2 separate regions of the Homo sapiens genome follow, and region 1 is linked to region 2. Evidence: fine-mapped expression QTL. Tissue or cell type: whole blood. Region 2 holds a variant in brackets; the other region holds the start of a gene. All regions are shown on one strand. Distances are from middle to middle.

What was found. PIP is the estimated chance that this variant, and not a neighbour inherited with it, causes the effect.
Region 1: it holds the start of MNDA, and the variant in region 2 is fine-mapped to the expression of MNDA in whole blood (TOPMed, PIP above 0.99).

Annotation. Positions count from the first base shown.
Region 1 is chr1:158,830,180-158,832,873 of GRCh38, reverse strand. MNDA (myeloid cell nuclear differentiation antigen) reads right to left here and starts at 1,523. Exons shown (of 7, transcript NM_002432.3): 1 at 1,317-1,523. It also overlaps a transcript of OR6N1 not described here.
Region 2 is chr1:158,800,815-158,803,508 of GRCh38, reverse strand. It overlaps a transcript of OR6N1 not described here. Among named protein-coding and RNA genes, the nearest start is that of OR6N2, 21 kb to the right of the region's middle. The variant G/T (reference allele first, on the strand shown) is at 1,320.

The sequences.
Region 1 (2,694 bases), 29 kb before region 2:
CTCATCAACTAGGAGGAAAAATTTTCAATTTGGATTAAAAATAAATCCAGTCATATGTTGTTGACAAAGTACAAATAAAGCATAAGTTCACTTAAGTTTGAGAAAGAGCTGGAAAAGTTATATTCTTCAAACTCTAACTTAAAGAAAGACTTTTTAGGAAAAATAGTGTAGCTTAAAATAGGCTTAAGTCAATAAGTATCAGTACATAGTTTCACTACATAATGGTAAAGTATGCAACTTGGAAAAAGATATAATAATTTAAATTATATTATAAATATAATCTGTTATTACTTTATAAAGTAGCATATAGAAGTTTTTTCTTCTCTCTAAACACACACATAACATATATACTTAGATATACATATTCTATGTAAAAATATATGGTAGAAATCAAAAGAACTACAATGAGAAATTAACAAAATCACTATTAGAGTTGGAGATTTCACCACATCTCTCAGTTACTGAAAGAACAAGGTAAAAAATAGCTTAGATTTAGATTTAGATTTTTCAAACATAATTAACAAGCTTACTTAAGAAACTTTATCTTACTTAAATAGAATTTGGAATCCAACGTTTATAAACTCTTCTCAAGTACTCATGGAGTAATTAGAAAACATTCATATGTACAAAGCCATAAAAAAGTCAAAATGTATCCCAAAGTAGGAAATATATAATTGATTCTCCCTGTCTTTTCATTATACCTTGCCACAAAAAATGTTATCTATGACTGAGTAAAGCATAGACCATTTGAAAAAGAGAATTATTTCTTCTTACACTTGTTGTAAAATGAAGCATAAAATGAAACTGATTCATGAAAATGTAAAGATTATTTTTGAGTAAATGCTTGTAAAATTGAGAAATTAATGTGTGCACATGTCTATGCTTTTTAAAATAGAGATAAAATCATATAATAGAGATTTATATCCTGGTTTATTTTTTACTAAATATTACTTCATAATAATTTTCTTATCTGACTGTCTTGTCTTTTAACTTAGGCCCAAACCCAGTCACCAAGTCATCCTCCAGCCAAGAAAACCAAGTATCTCCTCTAAATATCAATTTATGCCAAAAGACACCCAAGAATTAATTTTTAAAACCTGCTGTAGACAAAATACATTTTTTTGGTTCATACCCCAATTGTGGTAGAATAAAAGATATCCATTTGCTACCTAGACAGTTAAAGCATTCAGTTCTCAGTTTTCTGAATATGATTGATAACAACACTTCTGGTCTCAGGCAATTATTCTCTACTGAGATGGTGTGGTTACCAACTAGATACCTAGATCTTTCTCTAAAGAACTTCCCAGAAATCTCACCTTAATGGATGCTTCTTCCACAATAGTCTTCAGAAATCCTGGAGTCACTGTCTTGTTTAGGACAGAATCACTGTCCGTAAAGCTTTGGAGAGATTAAACTGCAGACTATTTTAATCTTGTAAAGGGCTGAGAAATGAAAGCTAACAAGGAAAAATGGCACTTGTTAGAGCCACTCTCAATCTTGATTGTAGATGGCCTTCTTACACTGTCCTAATTCCTAACTAGAAAGAAGTTATGTAATCATGAAACAATTTTGAAGCCACGCCTATCAGCCTTTGTAGCTTTCTATTTCAGATGTCAGAGAAAGTGGTCAGTTCCTCTTTGTAGTAAGTAATCTCAGTCACAAGGAGAAATGACAGTAAATGGTGCCTCTTCTTCGCTTTTTTGACTTACAAATACTTGCTGAAAGGAGTTTCAAACTCAGAACTTTCTTATAAAGCTAACTTACATATAGGTCATTAGAAACCGGTAGCCGCTTGAATAAGGATCTTAATATAAATTGGGAAAGGCAAAACACCAAAGTTTCTCCCTCCTTTCCTGTTCACAGAGTGGCAGGAGCAGGAGATCTTGGTAGAGATGTCTATTGCTACCAGAACTTGACTTCATCTCTTGGATAGGGGTGGGTCTACTGTGAAATTGTTTTTGTTTAAATAGTACCTACATATTCACCCAGTTATTAATAACTGATACACCTGGAGCTTGACAGAGGCAGAAAGTCATTATGAATATGTAAATCCTTATTCAAATAATTTGAAAGAGTTTCATACTAGTTGCTCTCTTGAGTATAATAACTGAGCTGCCTTACCTTGATTATTAAATTCATGATTACTCATGCTTTTTGCATTATTTATGGATAGTTGGTTCATATCATGACTGAAACCTTGAACATTCTGGAACAGCACTGAAACTCTGGAATGATAGGGGGCCTGATAAACCCTTTGTACTGCAATTTTTTTTTCCTGTGAAGAACAGTGGGTGCACTACAAAGTATCATAACTCTGAATTGTCAAATGAATGGTATCAGTTAGCAGACAGTGCTGTGGTTACCAACTAGCTGATCTGTAAGCAAAATGTGGTCATGACTGGAAAAGGATCCCAAAACAGCTAATAGGGGAAAATGATCCAAGGCCATCTACAGAGAAGAATAAAGCTGATTGTCTTAATCCAAACCAGCAGCATAGAGAGAGTTAAAGTTTGGATTTGGAAACTGTCTAAACCCCACTAAAGCAGGGTAAATCAGAAAAAACCAAGAGGATCTAGAATGACAGCCACTAACACATGTGGGTGTTCATTGTTTCAGTTTCTCTCTTATGCTGATGCTTCGAGCAGGTCTTAAGGTAAAGGGTAAAGAGGAACACAAGGAAACCTTATCAGGTGC
Region 2 (2,694 bases):
ACAATTATTCATTTGAAGAATTGGGATAGATGGCTAATCTATATATCCATGAAATAAAAATGAAAACAAAAGATCTGTTGGTGCTTGAGACTGTGGGAGATGCAGTAATTTAGTGAAGGATAGTTTCAACTATCCATCTTTGTGAAAGGTTAGGTATTTCAGAGTAAGTGGGACATAAGCTAAATGCTGATTAAGGTTGAATGAGACCCTCATATTGTCCAAAAATTTGAGAGACTCTTTCAATCCCAAAGTCACATTAGTACTCTCAGAAACAAATATCTTCCTTTCCTTTGGCTCAGAAACTTTCCGTCTCCTACAGGAAAGCTTTTCCAATTTGAACTCAGAACACTTAGTATTTTTCTTCCGTTTAATATGATTTACTTGTTAATCTTTTTATGGTTACCTCCGTATCTTAAATTTAATATAGCAACTGCTTTCTTTCCACCTGATTCTGAAAAATAAAAGTACATTTGGGGCTATGAATGATTCAAATACCTTACTTCTGATAGATAAATGCTGTAATTCCATTATTCATCTGGACTCCATATCCATCTAAGTACATGCCCACAGAGAACACACAGCTGAGATAAGAGTTCAGATGTCAAGATTAGGATGTTGATGAACATATTGAGGATATGGATATAAGTAAAAGTAATAATGAAAAAGTAGATTAGTCTCATGAAGATGCCTGGGTAATAATAATGGTAGTGATAATGTAAGTAATGGTAATAATACTGGTGATGGAGACTTAGACAAGTGTATTAGGTATTCAACATCAATCATTTGGAACAATGGCTAAAGATAGCTGACATGGCAAAGGGAGGGACAGTGGTGAGAGTAACAAAGGTAGAGATGGTAAGCGCAAAAGTGATAGTGGTGCCTGTGCTGTGATAATATGGTGATGTGGTGAGGTTAGTAGGGATGGATGAGAAATCTCCTTGCAAAAAAAGCTTTTAAGATGAAACTCACCTCTGGGGTGCTAAAGATGTGATTCTTCATGTATTCAAGTTGGATTGTCTCTTCTCATGAAAAGCTATGACGGGGAGGCCAAGGCGGGTGGATCACGAGGTCAGGAGAGCGAGACCATCTTGGCTAAAATGGTGAAACCCTGTCTCTACTAAAAAATACAAAAAATTAGCTGGGTGTGGTGGCACATGCCTGTTGTCCCAGCTACTTGGGAGGCTGAGGCAGGAGAATCGCTTGAACCTGGAAGGCAGAGGTTGCAGTGAGCCGAGATCGCTCCACTGCACTCCAGCCTGGGTGACAGAGCAAGACTCCGTTTCAAAAAAAAAAAAAAAAAAAAAAAAAAGTGCTATGAG[G/T]GACTTGCAGAACTTCTAGAGTCCCAGAAGAGGCAGTGTCCCTGGGATTGGATTCTAGAGCCAGTGAGGGTTGCAGAAAAGCCATTTGAAAGAGAGTAGGGCTGCTTTACTTCTCTGTGTCCAACTTCCTACCCCAGAGGAGCACTTACAAAAAACTTTACACACTTAGCAACTCCAGAGAACATATAGCAAGGAGCCCCTGGGAGGTCAGCATTTCCAGGAACATGAAATATAAGTAGGGGAGTGTCTTGGGGTAGAAAAGATGCAGAGGAGGATGTTGTAAATTCTAATGTCATCAAAACCATCAGGTAATGGGCAGGGGTGGTACAGAAAAGATTAGAGTATCTAAAAAAGAGAACTAGGTAAAGGCTTTGATCTTTCCCAGATAAGGACTATTAGAATATGGAAAGAAAACTCCAGGGACATTGATATAGACCACCCAACTCCATATCCACCCTAGAAACATTTTTCAATGGCTTTAGAGATCCACAGACTACCAGGGTGGTGAGGGGCTTTATACAACATTTATATAGAGAAGGGGAAGTTGAAGTAAAGAAAGGAGAAATGGTTAAGCCCAATGTTCATTTTGAGTTAGTGGCAAAACAAGTTTACAAAGTCAATTTAGAAATAGAATGCTTTTTCTGTTGCGCTACAGCCCTTCTAGACCAACAATATAGGGGCCTTAGCTTACCAATTCCTCTCTCTCCTCATTCCCTTTGAGAATTCCTGATGCATGTCTCCCTTAGGAATCCTTCTTTAAAATGTACTTTGTCTGTTCATTGATTCTTCATGTAACCCTGCAGTTCTGACTTTGACAGATGGGACATTTCTTTAGGGACTAGATGGATACTTTTCTGTCTCTCCTGTTTTCTGGCAAGGTGGGTGGGAAAAAAACCCCGGCATTTAACAATTTTGTTTTAAGGAGCCAACCCACTCTCTCTCTCCCCACCGCCACCCCCACCTTTTTCTCTTCTTCACATACACACACAGACAGACCACACACACACACACACACACACACACACCAGTATGTGCAGCAACATACTGACTAACACCAAGAAACAGACTTTTTTTCATTTTGTTCTATGTACTTTTGTGATGATGGGAGGTCATGAAAAGTGGTGGGAAGGAGTGCATGGATTGGTGAGAAGTGAATGAGCAAAACAAAAGAAAGTCTCATGGAAGTGTAGAAGTGTATTGTGATCTCTTCTCATGCCTTAGACTTTAGAATGCTAACTGGGCACCCAGTTGCTACTTCTCTGAAGGTTCTCTGAAGACCAAGCGTGGAACTGTAGGATCCTACTAGGAGATTCCCTGTCTGAGGATAACATAGCCATAGCTTATTGAAGATACAAAAAGAAAACTTATTTTTGAA